Linked DNA regions of Homo sapiens: regions 2 and 3 are each linked to region 1. Evidence: fine-mapped expression QTL. A gene starts in region 1. Each other region holds a variant in brackets. All regions are shown on one strand. Distances are from middle to middle.

Region 1 (5,216 bases):
ACTGCGACAGGGAGGGCAGGGTTGTCTCAGGTCCCAGTCTCAGGCCTAGCTCCAGCCACATCACCCACACCTACTCAGGGTCACCAGATGGAGAACAAGTCTTAGACAAGACATCGGAAGCCCATGTGCACAGATGGGGAAGCTGAGGCTTGGAGTCTGTACCTTGGGTCAGGCCTGTGGCCTCCCCACCACACGTTGCACCAACCACATTAGCATCCAGTCCCGTGAGTGCTCATGTCTTTCCAAGTTCAGAAGAACCCACTGGCTTCCTTACCCCTTCCAGGGAAGAAACTAGGCTTAGCCCAAAACCCCGAGGAAAACTTTTGTTTCTACAACTGTCCCGATGCCTTCAAAGCCCGAGGAGGTTTCTGGGCTTAAGCGTTCTTAGAAAAGGTCCTCACTGCATAACTAAGAATCATGTTTCCCTGCTTAGAACAGAAAGGCAGCACCCCCTCCCCCGAACTGGATTACTAGCTGCTCTTGAGACACAAAGGGGTTGGCACAGAAATCAGGCTGGTGGAGAGGGCCGGTGAGAGCCTCTAGATGTGCCCCCCATGTACCTCTTTGGGACAGTCACTGTCACACGCTGGACTTAAGGGTTACTGTGATCCTCATGTTTCCTTTAGAACTTTGGAGTCATTAAGTAGAGAAGCCACCAGACTTGGTGTCCCGCCATCCTCCACCCCTCTCATTTACAGGTGGCCCATGAGATTCTTAAATCTGTGATAAGTTCCAGCTCCTGGGGAAATTCTCCTCTTTTCCCCACTTGCAAAACGGGGACGTGAAGCTGCACAGGGTAGACACTGAGAGAGGCTCTGGGAGTGTCAGCGGCCAGTCACGGGGCCACAGGGTAGACACTGAGAGAGGTTCTGGGAGTGTCAGCGGCCAGTCACGGGGCCGCATGGGTGGGCTGCCCGCCGGGGCCTGCCTAGCTCTCTCCAAAGGGTCCTTACGCTCAGAAACAGCTATTTTCACCATCCCTGTCTTAGGGTGAACCTTCAGATTAAGTCACTCTCCCAACTCTGCCTAAATGCAGCTCTTTTCACCCTGGGGACGGCCTTCTCTGGGGTCAGGAAGCAGGCCAGGAAAGGAGCCCCAGGGTCCCAGGGTCCTCACCGGGACCCCCAATACCCTAGGCACACTCTGGAGACCGGGCTTTGGGGCTGCAGAGGAGAGGCTCCTCTTTGCTGTTCCTGTTAGGGCCTCGCCAGAGGGACACTGGACTTGTCTGCATAAAGCGGTCTTCTGCCTTGGAGACAGAAAGCGATACACTGTGAAGAAATCGGGCTTCTAAAACTAACTGTGCTCTCAAACACAGTGCCGTTTGGAACGGGGAAGCACTCCCCCAGCTCCTGGCATACACTGGTAAAAGCCAGAAAGATAATTGAGGCCCAATCGCAAAGCCCTGAACACACCGGTCTGGGAGTTGCAGAGTGCCTGAATGTCTGCCATGGGCCCGCACAGGGCCAGAGGCCTGGAGGGCAGCCCTGCAGCCTCTCTGGTGACCCCTGATGGCACAGACACTCCTCAGGCGGACGGCACACTTGCTCTGCCAGGAAACACTGGGAGTAATGTCTCTCTGCTTTCTCGGCATCTTGCAGGGAAGGACACAGGAACCCGGGGGGAACAGTGGCAGGGTAGATTGCAGGACCGTGACTCCAATCTGGATCCACAGGCAAACTTTTCAGGGAGCCACCGGGCCAATGAGGCCACCTGCATACCTGCCTAAAGCTTCCCTCTGGCCTCCGTCCTGTCTTCATGGTATCTCCACCTTCCCCCTATCCGCGGCCCCCCACCAGGCCTCCAAGCTCGGCCATCCCTAGCAGTTCCCAGAGCTGGCTCTCGGCCGTACTCACATGCCCTGCTCGCCGTACTGGTTGTAGAACTCCATGTGGCTGCACGCCTGGATCCAGCCAACTACCCAAGTCTCCTTCTTGGGGATGGGCGGCATGACCACCTGGGCCGAGGCCCGGAAGTGGGGTGTCCGGTAGCGGAGCACCACGCTGGAGGACTCATCGATGCTAGTGGGGACGGGGTCGATGGAGGCTTTCACATCAATCACCGTGATCCCTTCCCGGAAGACTCTGGCTTTGCCTCCGATGCTCTGAATACAGCCCATGGCATACAGGAGCGCTCTGATCTCCAGGGAAGGCCAGCAGTCACAGAAAAAACCAGGCATTGAAAGGACAGAGGCTGCAGGACCCAGTACAGACGGCGCTGCTCTCCAATCTCAACTCTCAAGACCGATATCCATAGGATAGAAAACTCACTGAGTAGACTGGGGTTGCATATATCACTACCGCGGCCTGTTTATAAATAAGGATTCTGCTGCATTTCATGAGCCCTGGGCTCTCTCTTCTTCTCCTCGCAGTGGACAAAAATCACCGATATTCTTTGGGTTAAAAAAAGTTTGTAGTTTAATGAATAATTATGCGGTTCTGACATCCAGCCCTTCTGTGCCTCACACGCGGGGACGGCAGCTCGCAGACTCTCCCTGAAGTCTTCGGAGGAAGCAGGCGAGCGCCGGCAGACTCATAAATAAGGAAGGCTCTGTCCCCGCGCGGCCGCGCCACCCTCGCGGCAGAAGCCTGACTTCCTGCCCTCCGGCCTTCCGCACGCGCTCCCTCCGGGCCCCGCACCCGCACCCGCCCGGCGCGGTCGAATCAATTGCAGAGCAGTTTGTGTTCACCCGGCCGAGGTCCCGGCGCCCTCGGGGCGAGCGCCGACCCGCGGCTTCCAGGAGGCGAGCTCAGGGCTCCGGCCGCTCGCCGGTGACGGGGGAGCGCGGCGCGGGTCCCCGTCGGCGCCCACTCGCGGGCGCGGGCCGGACGTCCCCACGCAGGGGCGCCGCGTCCCTTCGCCGCTGTCGCTGCCGGCCGCCGTGCAGGGTCCCGGGGCTGCGCTCCGGCCGCCGCCGCCTGCTTCGCCGCGGCCGCCGAGGACCTGGTGGGAGGTGGAAGGGACAGCGCGTCAAGGCCAGCCTCAAAGTTAAGCCGAACTTTGCTGCGGGGGGCGCGCGGGGGCGGCGACGCGTGTGCGCTGGGCGCGGGCTGCGGAGCTGACGGCGCAGCTCTGGGCGGTCTCCCCGGAGGCGGTGGCCCCCGCCCCCCGCGCCCGCCCCGTCAGTGGCGGCCGCACGACCGCGCGCACCAGCGAATAATAGCCGCCCGTGACATCTCCGCTGATACCGTCCCGGACGGGCGGGGTGGGGGGCGAGCGGCTGCCGCTGCAGGGGGCGGCGAGCACTTGCCCTGCTCTGTCCCCACCGCCGCGCCGCCAGCGCCAGGTGCCCCTTCCCCACCCCGGTCCCTCCGGCTCCCTGGGCGCAGGGCCACCCACCAGTGCCGTCGGATCCGGCGGGCACCCCTTTCCCGGCTGGGGTCCCTCGGCCCTCGGAGGGCATAGTGCCCCCGCTCCGCCGCGTCAAGCGCCTCTGTCGCCCCTCTCCAGCCGCGAGCAGCCCCGGGTCCCCACGCGTCGGGCGCGCTCGCCGCTGCCGGGGAACTTTGGCGCGCACGCCCCCACTCGGGCGGCGCCGCCGACTCACCTGCCCCGGGGGCCACTCCGCTGGCCCGGGCAGCCGCTCTCCGGACGCCCCTGACCCGGCCGCGGGCACGTTCTTGGGGCGCCCCCACCCCCTTCCCCGGGCACTGTCCCTTGGCTCTACTGGAGTCTGGGGCCGGCGTGGGCGCCCCCGGCCCCCACCCTCCTCCCGGCTTGGGGCTTCGGGGGGGCGGCCGGGGGCGGAGGGCTGAGGCTCGGGGCTCTCTCGCCCCCACCCCGCGCGCCTCCTTTATTTTATGATCATTGTGAGCGCGCTGTCGCCGCTCAGCCCCGCCGCCGCGCCGCTGCCGCCTGGCGCGCCCCGCGCTGCCTCGCTCTGCTGCAGCATCGGAAAGGCAACCGGGTCAAACTTTGCAGAAACTCGGCCCCTGCGCCGGCCCGGCCCCCGCGTCCGCTCGCCGCCGCCGCCGGCCGAGCGCAGCCGGCGCACGCAGGGACCGCCGCCCGCTCGCCGGCCCCGCGGGGATGCAGGTCCGCAGGCGGCGGCGGCGGCGGCGGGCGGGCGCCGCCTCCTCCTCCCCGCCCGCCTGGCTCTCCACCCTCGCTCCCCGCACACAGCCCGCCCTCCCCCTGGTAATCCCTCGCTCCCCCTCGCTCCCTGTCTCTGCAGCTGCTCGGGGAGCTGAGCCTCTCCTTGAACAAACGACATTTCCTTTTTGGCCAGCCCCGGGAATTCTGGGTAGTGTAGTTCCGCTGCTGTCTCGGGGCCAGGTGGGCTGCTCCCAGTGCCCTTTGAACTCTATGGACCAGAGGCTTTCTGGGGTTCGGAGCACCCGCAGAAGGGCTCCCTTGCCCTGGGGTTCCTGACCGCAGGGAGACAGTGGCTTGGTGGAGACAGCGCGGGGGCTTTGTAGGCTCCAAGGCTGGGAAGGTCGCGGGGAGGGGAGAGCAGTTTGGGGAGAGGTGGGTCCCCTCGAGCAGGTCTGCTGGCTGCCTGTTGGACCCCGGCTGTGTGATGAGCGCTGTACAGAGCATCATTTCAGCCACCATCGGCCTCCCTGTGGAGGGAGACTGATGATGTGCACTTCACAGAGCAGGCACCCAGAGCTGAGAGGCTAGGGGATTTGCCCAAGGTCCTTCCCCCCGTCCCCCCGCAGGGGTCCCAGTGCAGGGGCTCAAAAGGAGCATGAGGCTGTACAGCCATGGGAGAGCTATGAACCCCACCCCTACCTTCCAGCCAGCCGTAGGGAAAGCCCAAGCAATTTGTGACATAAGTACATCTGGCAGCTACATTAAAGCCACGCTCTTCGTCCCCACCCCATCCCCATGACTCTGACTTCCACAGGTGCCCACAGCCGGCACAGGGCAGGTGCTTCCAGCCAGTCCCAGAGCCGGAGCACGCTGAGTGTGTGAGGGCAGGGCTGGAGGGACCGAGGGGCTGGCCACTCTTGGATCTCTCCTTTGAGGGGTTAACAACCAGGACATCTCACAGCAGCACCGGCTCAGCCATGGAGCAGGAAGTGGCTGGCTAGGGTGGCCTCCGCCTCTCACCCAGCCACACCCTCACCCCAGCACTGCTATGGCCCGTATCCCCAGCTAATGAGGAGGTGGTCCCTTTCCAGTTCAGCTAGTAGGTGGCTTATTCCTAGTCCCACTGACTCGGGCCAAGGCAGGGCCACAGAGATGGCCCCCTTGGCCTGTTGGACACAGTA
Region 2 (5,216 bases), 59 kb after region 1:
GAGATGGCACACATATTGCACGCAAAATGGGCTTGGGGACTGGTAAGCCCTCAGTAAATGTTTTGTTTTTGTTTTTTTTAGATAGTGTCTTTCTCTGTCACCCAAGCTGGAGTGTGGTGGTGTGATCTCAGCTCACTGCAACTTCCACCTGCTGGGTTCAAGTGATTCTCCTGCCTTAGCCTCCCAAGTAGCTGAGATTACAGGCCCCCACCAGCATGCCCAACTTATTTTTGTATTTTTAGTAGAGACAGGGTTTCACCATGTTGGACTGGCTGGTCTCGAACTCCTGACCTCAAGTGATTCACCTACCTCGGCCTTCCAAAGTCCTGGGATTATAGGCACAAGCCACCACACCCGGCATGTAAATGTGGTTTTTTTTGTTTTGTTTTTGTTTTTGTTTTTGTTTTTGAGAGAGTCTCACTCTGTCGCCCAGGCTGGAGTGCAGTGGTGCAGTCTCGGCTCACTGTAACCTCTGCCTCCCAGGTTTAAGCGATTCTCCTGCCTCAGCCTCCCAACTAGTGCACTCCAGCTTGGGTGACAGAGAAAGACACTAGCTGGGATTACAGGCATGTGCCACCACGCCCAGCTGATTTTTTGTATTTTTAGTAGAGATGGGGTTTCACTGTGTTAACCAGGATGATCTCAATCTCCTGACCTCGTGATCTGTCCGCCTCGGCCTCCCAAAGTGCCGGGATTACAGGCGTGAGCCACCACACCTAGCCCTGTAAACGGTTTTTAAACCATGACACTGGCTCCCAGTGCTTTGGGAGGCCAACGAGGAAGGATCCCTTGAGCCCAGGAGTTCAAGACAAGACTAGGCAACAGAGCAAGACCCTGTCTCAAAAACAAAAACAAAAACAAAAAAACACAAAAACCATGACTGCTGGAATCCCAAGGGCCCGGAGATGAAGAAGTGCTCTCCCCTCCACCTGCCTCTGCAGGGCTGTGTGGGTTGGGAGTAGCCATGAGGGCAGTGTCTGAGGACACAGGGCAGCTTCCTGGAACCTGGGCTGGGAAGAGGGTGCAAGGGGCAGAGCTGGGAGCAGGGGAGCCTCTCTCCTGGGGCCCCGGGCTTTTGTGCATGTGCCTCATTCCATCCTCTGCAGACCAGCCCCCTCTGCTATCATGGCTGCCCCTCATGGATCCCTCACCCCAAGTCCAGTTTCTCTTCCAGTTAGACAGAGCCCACCCCATGTGACCAGAGTCTCCCAGACCCGATTCCAAATGGCCAGGAGAGCTCAAACCCAGGCCCAGCTTGTGTCCAGCCCTGGCCGAGCCCACTCAGCTGAGGCTGCTGGCGGGGGCCTGTGGGTGCAGGCAGTGAGCTCTGTAAGAGAGGGGCTGCGCCACCCCTTGCTGTAGGACCCCAGCCTCCAGGCCAGGGCCCCTGTGTAGCAGGTCCTCAAAAAAGCATTTTCTAGGCCAGGTGCGGTGGTTCATGCCTGTAATTTCAGCACTTGGGAGGCTGAGGCAGGAGGATCACCTGACGACAGGAGTTTGAGAACAGCCTGGCCAACATAGTGAAACCCCGTCTTTACTAAAAATACAAAAATTAGCCGGGCGTGGTGGTGGGCGCCTGTAATTCCAGCTGAGGCAGAAGAATGGCTTGCACTCTGGAGACAGAGGTCACAGTGAGCTGAGATCACGCCCCTGCACTCCAGCCTGGGCAACAGAGCGAGATTCCGTCTCAAAAAAAAAAAAAAAAAAAAAAAAAAGCATTTTCCAGGACAGCTCTTGCTTCTTAGCCCTTCGCATACATCAAACCGTTTAGGAACACTGTCTAATTACAGCCGGGGCAGGACAGTTCTTGTCTCCATTTCACAGTCCGGGGAAGTGCTTTACCCCAGGCCACGTGGCAACTCAGGCCTGCAAGGCCCCAGCCAGGGGTGGGCAGGGCCGGTGGGAGGGAGAGGGTGCCTGGGGAGTTAAGAATATCCCTGCAGTGCTCAGCCTCTGGGTCTTGTGATGCCGAAACTCAAG[C/A]GCCCCCTGACTCAGCAGGATATTAATAAGCCTGGCCGGTTCCCAGGGGGCCGGCTCTGCCAGGGGCTGGAACAGAAGGACTCCCAGCCCTGCGGCCCGGATCCCCCTCCCCATGGCAACACAGCCCCACCCCTACTCCTTCTCCAGGTGCCCCCTAGCAGCCCCACAGCCCAGAGTCTCCCAGAACAAATTAATGTGGGGGAGCCCCCCAACCCACTGCTGAGCATATTGGGCAAATCTCACCGAGCTGAAGGGACCCTTCCTAGAAGGGATCCAGGAGGAAAGACAGAGCCAAGCAGCCTGGGAGAGGGAAGGGGTTTGAGCAGCCAACAGTGTGGGTTTGGGATGGGAGCTGAGTTGCAGCCCTGGTTCTCCCATTTCTAAGGTGCTCACTTGGGACAAATCCCTTATCAACACTAAGCCTTGGTTCCTTCCTTCCTTCCTTCTTTTCTTTTCTTTTCTTTTCTCCTTCTTCCCTCCCTCCCTCCCTCTCTCTCTCTCTCTCTCTTTCTTTTTGAAACAAGGTGTCATTCTGTCACCCAGGCTGGAACACAGTGGCACAATCATAGCTCACTGCAGCCTTGACCTCCTGGGCTCAAGCAATCCTCCCACATCAGCCTCCTGAGTAGCTGCGACTATAGGCCTGTGCCACCACACCCAGCTAACATTTGTATTTGTTTTTGTAGACACGGGGGTCTCACCATGTTGCCGAGGCTGGCCTCAACTCCTGTGCTGAAGCCATCCTCTGGCCTCAGCCTCCCAAAGTGCTGGGACTACAGGCATGAGCCACACACTGCTCGGCCTGAGCCTTGGTTTCTTTTTTCTTTTCTTTCCTTTCTTTTTTTTTTTTTTTTTTTTTTTGAGACAGACTCTCGCTCTGTCGCCCAGGCTGGAGTGCAGTGGGTGGCACGATTTCGGCTCACTGCAAGCTCCGCCTCCCGGATTCACGCCATTCTCCTGCCTCAGCCTCCCGAGTAGCTGGGACTACAGGCATCCACCACCACACCCGGCTAATTTTTTGTATTTGTTAGTAGAGATGGGGTTTCACTGTGTTAGCCAGGATGGTCTCGATCTCCTGACCTCGTGATCTGCCTGCCTCGGCCTCCCAGAGTGCTGGGATTACAGGCGTGAGCCACCCGTGCCTGGCCTTTTTTTTTTTTTTTTTTTTTTTGAGACAGAGTCTTACTCTGTCGCCCAGGCTGGAGTATAGTGGCTCGATCTTGGCTCACTGCAACATCCGCCTCCCAGGTTCAAGTGATTCTTATGCCTCAGCCTTCCAAGTAGAGATGGGGTTTCTCTCTATTTTTAGTAGAGACGGGGTTTCACCATGTTGGCCAGGCTGGTCCTCGATTTCTTAATGTGTAAAGTGGGGATGGTAATGGTACTTCATTTCTGGTTTTGCTATAAGGACCCAGTGAGGCAGCTGTCCTGAAGGGCGAGCCTTGGGAGCCCTGGCTGTCCAGGCTGGTCTCAATGGACCCGGCTGTCAGGGCCACTCTCGGCTGAGTTTCTGTCCTACAGCGCCCTCTAGTGGGAAAAGGTGGTCATTGCAGGGGCATCCAACTCAGGTGGCCAGGGAGCTTTCCTATCCCAAGTTGGAGTCCAAAATGTGCCCTTTCTGATCAAGTTAAATTCATGGCCCTTATTACATATGCACCAGCATGGTACGGCGAAGGAGGACAAAGAGAATGAGACCCATTCCCTTCCCTTTGGAGGCTCAAAGGGCAGCACTGCCTGGTTTGGGCATCAATGTGACAGTCAAGTCTGGGTCCTGGTCCTGCCCTCTCAGTGGCCTGCACAAGCCACACCCTCCCTGAGCTCCAGAGTCCTCCTCTGTAAACAGGATCACAAAACTTTCCGGTGGTAAGAGCTACGGAGAGGAACTAGGAAGAGCCAGCAGGAGGCTTGTGTTTGAGATGCGATGGCCAGGGAGCCCACCTTTGAGGAAATACCCGAAGCAGTGAGGGAGAGATCTTTGCAGAGACCTGGGAGGCCAGCGAAGGCCTGTGCCAGTTCAAGGAAGAGCGAGAGGTCAGTGGGGTCAGCGCGGAGCGATGGGGGCCGGAGGAGATGAGGGGAGAGGGGCTGTGTGTCACGATCAGTGCAGTAGGATGCGTAATGAAGGGCCCTGGCCCAGGTGGCCATGGAGGCCTCCCAGAGCAAGGAGTGTCCAAGCTGCGGGTGGCAGAGAGGGGTGGGAGAGCTCGGAAGACCTGATCCCAGTGCGGCCCCAACACTAACATCCTCTGTGGTCCAAGATCAGCCCACATCCCCTGAGCTCAGTTTCCTCATCTGCAACATGAGGGAGCTGGCCTAGCTACAGCCCCTCTTTCTCTAATCTGACACCTGCCGCTGGGGCCAGGGCTCCAGCCTGACTGCGTAATGCACAGGGACCCCCAGCTAGCTCAGGGTAGGCGGCGTTCGTGAAAGGTCCTCACACCCTCCAGTCCAGGCTTTTGCAACCCCTGGGCCTCAGCTGGATGTGTGAGTGGAGTAGGGGCAGCATCAGATCTTTTGACCTGAGGAAGGCCAGCAGCAAATGCCCCAGGATCTGAGAGCTTGCTGTGCTCGCTGCTACCAAGTTGTCTTTGCTTACAGGCTGTTAAGGGGTGAATTGTGCGTCCCCAAAAAAATATGCTGATGTTCTAACCTCCAGTCCCTCAGAATGTGACCTCATGTGGTCTTTACCGAGGTAACCGGGTTAAGATGCGGTCATCGGGGGGTGAGACCCTAATCCAATATGACCGGTGTCCTTATAAAAAGGGGAAATGTGGCCCGGTGCAGTGGCTCACGCCTGTAATCCCAACACTTTAGGAGGCTGAAGTGGGAGGAGCCCAGGAGTTTGAGATCAGCCTGAGCAACATAGGAAGACTCTGTCTCAATAACAACATAAAACTAGCCGGGTGTGGTGGCACCACATGCCATGGTCCCAGACACTCCGAAGGCTGAGGCAGGAGGATCACTTCAGCCCAGAAGTTTGAGGCTGCAGTGAGCTAGGATCACACCACTGCACTCCAGCCTGGGCCACAGAGTAAGACTCCATCTCAAAAATATGAAATTAAAATCAAAAGGAGGGGGGCAGGCGTATTGGCTCATGCCTGTAATCCCAGCACTTTGGGAGGCCAAGGCAAGTGGATCACTTGAGGTCAGGAGTTCGAGACCAGCCTGGCCAACATGGTGAAATCTCGTCTCTACTAAAAATATAAAAATTCGCCAGGCATGGTGGTGCATGCCTA
Region 3 (5,216 bases), 28 kb after region 1:
ATGAGAGGGCTCCCTGGGCTGGAGAGGACCAGCTGGCCCCTCTAAGCTGGCTTCCTCAGCTGCTTCATGGGGCGAAGGGATGCCAAGGTCAGCACAGCTACCTCCCTCTCCCGCCTGCCCTGGGGACCTGGCAGTCCCCAGTCCCTCTCTCCTGCTGGAACTGTGACCTCCCACAGGCTTCAGATGGCACGAAACCCGGGCATGGTCAGCACACGAGCTGGCCAGCCACACGCCTCCCCAGCCACCTCCTGGGAAGACCCAGCCCAGGGGAACAGCTGCCGTGAAATTGGCAGGCAAGGGTAGAGCAAGGTTTTCTCGAGGCCTTCAGGCCCCGCCCTCCTTGGGCCAGCCAGCTCCTCTGTGTACCTGCTCAGCCCCCTCCTGTGCTGGCCAGGCACTTCCAGGGTGCAAGGCTCTCAGCCAGCCCTGTGGCTAATGAGAGGGGCCAGGAGATGCCACGATTCAAACCCCAAACAGAGAGACCAGACTACAAGCAGCAACCCTGAAGTGGGCAGGAAAAGGGGAAGCCCTGAAGTTCTAGTCCTCCAGGGAGGACTGCGTGATCTGGAACAGTCTAACTGCCTGGCATGGACAGTTAGGTGCACCACAGTGCCTCACACCCTGCAGCAAGGGGATCGGGGGTATGTGATGGTGCAAGACTTTCAAAAGCAGGCAGCAGAACAACATATGCAAACCATGTTACAAGCTTTATTAAATCTATGCTCCAAAGGCCGGGCACGGTGGCTCACGCCTGTAATCCCAGCACTTTGGGAGGCTGAGGTGCGCGGATCACCTGAGGTCGGGAGTTCAAGACCAGGCTGACCAACATGGAGAAACTCCATCTCTACTAAAAATAGAAAAATTAGCTGGGCGTGGTAGCACACACTTGTAATCCCAGCTACTCGGGAGGCTGAGGCAGGAGAATCGCTTGAACCTGGGAAGCGGAGGTTGTGGTGAGCCGAGATCACACCATTGCACTCCAGCCTGGGCAACAAGAGGGAAACTCTGTCTTAAAAAAAAAAAAAAAAAAAAAAAGCTGTGCTCTATAAGTGGATGGAAAGGTCTGGAACAATGACTACCTCTGAGGGGCAGGATTACAGGTGATTTAAACTCTAACTTTTGTTTTCTGTTTTGTAAATGTTCTGCAGTGAATAGCATCTTCTGTGTCTTTTTTTTTTTTTTTACTTTTTTTCCATTTCTGCCAAGAGCTGAACATTCCGATAAATACTGAAAAGTTTTCTAGGAAAGCTCCCAGCATCTGGCTGCACTGAACTGTCATTGAGTCATAACCCCCCACCTTTATCCAGCCCTCCTGGTGGGCCAGGCGTTTGGGGGACCAACTCAATCATTTGCTGCGACTTCCATGCTTTAGCACTGAATATCTTGTGTCCTAGGAAACCCCTCTGTCCCAGTGAAACCTTGTCACCCTGCAGTCAGCAACCTGCCTGCAGGCATGGTGCCTGGCCCCCTCTGGGAGGTGGGTGTCCCTGAGCTTCGTCTCACAGGTGAGGAAAGTTAGGTGGTTTGCCTGAGGTCACACAGCTGGGAGGCTCCAGGGCTGGAGCTCACAGCTGGGTCTCTGGCTGTGATGCCTGTGAGCTTTGCCACCACACTGCACTGTGGGTGTTGTCTTCACTGTCCGTGAGGCAGGGCTTGCAGGAGCTGTGACCTCACTGGGGTCCCCAAGGTCACCTGAGATGGGGAAGCACAGGGGGCAGGGGCACGGGCTCCCTGCCGACTCTGTACCTGCCCTGGGGGTGCTGTCTGGCCTGCTGATGCCACCCCCACCCCCAGGTCAGAGGGTGTGAGCCCCAAGGGCCTTTCTAAGGGTGTGGAGGGTTGACCTGGAACCCCCACATTGGCGGTCTGGGTGCCACTCAGATCAGCTGGGTGAAACTGGGGTCCTGGCATGGTGCCTTCCTCTCTCGGCACAGAAAGGCGGAGCAGCCCCCCAAGGCCACACAGCAGGGTGTGGCAGAGACACGATGGAGATCCAGGTCTCCCCTGTGTTTCCGAAATGGGGAAAGAAAGGCCAGGCGCAGTGGCTCACGCCTGGAATCCCAGCACTTTTTGGGAGGCGGAGGTGGGCAGATCCCTTGAGGTCAGGAGTTCGAGACCAGCCTGGCCAACATGGCGAAACCCCGTCTCTACTAAAAATACAGAAATTAGCCAGCCGTGGTGTCAGGTACCTGTTGTCCTGGCTACTCGGGAGGCTGAGGCAGGAGAATCACTTGAACCCGGAAGGCGGAGATTGCAGTGAGCCAAGATCATGCTGCAGTACTCCAGCCTGGGTGACAGAGTGAGACTCTGTCTCAAAAAAATAAAGAAAAAGAAAAGGAAGGAAAGAGCCCACCTCGCTGGTTATGAGCCTCAGGCCAGTAACTCAACTACGTTTGGAGACTGTGGCTCTGTTTCTAGCCACGGGGAAAAAAACCTATGAACAAACAGGCACAGCCCCTGCCTCCACGAAGTGATGACTTCATGCCGCAGACAGCGAACCCTCACCTCCCAACAGATGCCTCAGTGACTGCGGGGGAAAAGCCACGAAACAGAGGGCCAGATGTTGAGACTGAACCATTCAGGGCCTGAGCTGTCTGGAAGGCCGGGGCAGGTCCCTGAGGTGGTGAGTTGGGAAAGAGTGGAACATTCCAGAAAGCAAGAGCCTCAGGTATGAGTGCTCTGAGCTCCAGGGGTTCATCTTGTCCTCTATAAAGGGGGGAATGACACAGCGCAGTTGCTGGGGAAAACAGTGGGGTTCCTCAAAGAGTCACACACAGAGTTACTGTCATTACCAACCAGCGACTCCAGTCCTAGGGATCTACCAAAAGAACTGAAAACAGGCACTCGGCAAACACTTGCACACACGTGCATAGCAGCATGAGTCACGGCAGCCGAAAGGCGCAAACAACTCGATAGCCATCAATAGATGAATGGATAAACAAATTGTGGCCGGGCACAGTGG[C/T]TCACGCCTGGAATCCCAGCACTTTGGGAGGCTGAGGTAGGAAGATAGCTTGAAGCCAGGAGTTTGAGACCATCTTAGGCAGCAAAGTGGGATGCCCATCTGTAAAAAAAAAATTTTTTTTTAATTAGCTGGGCATGGTGGCACACTTGTAGTCTCGGTGGCTCAGGAGACTGAGGGAGGAGGATCTCTCGAGCCCAGGAATTCAAAGTTACAGTGAGTTATGATTGCACCACTACACTCCAGCCTGGGCAACAGAAAGAGACACCATCTCTGTCTCTCTGTTTCCCTCTCTCTCTCTTTTTAAGACAGGGTCTCACTCTGTCACCTTAGCCTCCTGGGTAGCTGGGATGAGAGGCGTGCACCACCACACTCAGCTAATTTTTGTATTTTTTTGTAGAGATGGGGTTTTGCCATGTTGCCCATGCTGGTCTCAGACTCCTGGGCTTAAGCAATCCTCCCACCTCAGCCTCCTGATAGCTGAAACTACAGGCGTATGCCATCACACATGTCTAATTTTTGTATTTTTTGTACAAACAGGGTTTTGCCATGTTGCCCAGGCTAGTCTCGGACTCCTGGGCTCAAGCAATATGCTCATCTCAGCCTCCCAAAGTGCTGGGATTATAAGTGTGACCCACCGTGCCCAGCCAGAGACATCCGTCTCTTAAAAAAAAAACACCAGGTGCGGTGGCTCACGCCTGTAATCCCAGCACTTTGGGAGGCCAAGACGGGCGGATCGCGAGGTCAGGAGATCGAGACCATCCTGGCTAACACGATGAAACCCCGTCTCTACTAAAAATACAAAAAATTAGCCAGGCGTAGTGGCAGGCGCCTGTAGTCCCAGCTACTCAGGAGGCTGAGGCAGGAGAATGGCGTGAACCCAGGAGGCGGAGCTTGCAGTGAGCCGAGATGGCACCACTGCACTCCAGCCTGGATGACTGAGCGAGACTCTGTCTCAAAAAAATCAAATAAAATAAAGAGGCCGGGCGCGGTGGCTCATGTCTGTAATCCCAGCACTTTGGGAGGCCAAGGCAAGCGGATCACTTGAGGTCAGGAGTTTGAGACCAGCCTGGCCAACATGGCAAAGCCCCGTCTCTACTAAAAATACAAAAATTAGCCAGGCGAGGCAGCGTGCGCCTGTAATCCCAGCTACTCAGGAGGCTGAGGCACGAAAATCACGTGAACCCGGGAGGTGGGCAGTGAGCCGAGATCATGCCACCACACTCCAGCCTGGGCAACAGAACGAGACTCCATCTCAAAAAAAAAAAGAAAGAGAAGATGAACAAATAGTGGTCCATCCATACAGTGGAATATTATTCGGCCATGAAAAGGAATGAAGCGCTGCCACATGGGTGGATGCTGGAAACATTATGCTAAGGAAAGGAAGGCAGACACAAAAGGCCACATGCTGTCTGATTCCATTTACATGGAGTGTCTAGAGGAGGCAAATCCTCTAGAGGAAAGCAGATTGGTGGTGTCCCAGGGGCTGGAGAGAAGGGGATGGGGAGTGGCTGCTTCGTGGGTATGGGGCATTCTTTTGGGATGATGAAATGTTTTGAAATTAGAGAGAGGAGGTGGCTGCTGACATTGTGATGTGCTGAATGCCGCTGAAGCGTGCACTCTAAAATGGTTCACTGTACAAGATGTAAATTTTGCTTCAATTTTTGAAAAATGGGAATGGGGCTGGGCACAGTGGCTCACGCCTGTAATGGGTGAACACTTGGGGAGGCTGAGGCGGGCAGGTCACCTGAGGCCAGGAGTTGGAGACCAGCCTGGCCAACATGGCAAAACCCCATCTCTACCAAAAATACAAAAAATTAGCCAAGCATGGTAGTGTGCACCTGTAATCCCAGCTACTCGGGAGGCTGAAGTATGAGAATTCCTTGAACCCAGGAGGTGGAGGTTGCAGTGAGCCAAGATCAGGCCACTGCACTACAGCCTGGGCAATAGAGCAAGACCCTGTATCAAAAAAAAAAAAAAAAGGAAAAAGGGCCGGGCGCAGTGGCTCATACCTGTAATCCCAGCACAATGGGAGGCTGAGGCGGGTGGATCACCTGAGGTCAGGAGTTTGAGACCAGTCTGTCCAACATGGCAAAGCCCCATCTCTACTGAAAGTACAAAAATTAGCTGGACGTGGTGGTGGGTGCCTGTAATCCCAGCTACTCAGGAGGCCGAGGCAGGAGAATCGCTTGAATCCGGGAGGCGGAGGTTCCAGTGAGCCAAGATCTCACCTCTGCACTCCAGCCTGGTTGACAAA

What was found. PIP is the estimated chance that this variant, and not a neighbour inherited with it, causes the effect.
Region 2: its variant is fine-mapped to the expression of FAM78A in left ventricle (GTEx, PIP 0.98).
Region 3: its variant is fine-mapped to the expression of FAM78A in whole blood (TOPMed, PIP above 0.99).

Annotation. Positions count from the first base shown.
Region 1 is chr9:131,274,001-131,279,216 of GRCh38, forward strand. It overlaps FAM78A (family with sequence similarity 78 member A), which reads right to left and starts at 2,510. Exons shown (of 2, transcript NM_033387.4): 1 at 1,857-2,510. The coding sequence starts at 2,179. RefSeq lists enhancers at 990-1,049, 1,060-1,109, 1,190-1,239, 1,225-1,837, 1,250-1,299 and 3 more and a silencer at 2,680-3,859.
Region 2 is chr9:131,332,921-131,338,136 of GRCh38, forward strand. All of the region lies in intron 1 of LOC105376299 (a long non-coding RNA gene), which reads left to right. Among named protein-coding and RNA genes, the nearest start is that of PLPP7, 46 kb to the left of the region's middle. The variant C/A (reference allele first, on the strand shown) is at 1,981.
Region 3 is chr9:131,302,321-131,307,536 of GRCh38, forward strand. The region is part of intron 1 of PLPP7 (phospholipid phosphatase 7 (inactive)); the gene reads left to right. Among named protein-coding and RNA genes, the nearest start is that of PLPP7, 15 kb to the left of the region's middle. The variant C/T (reference allele first, on the strand shown) is at 2,963.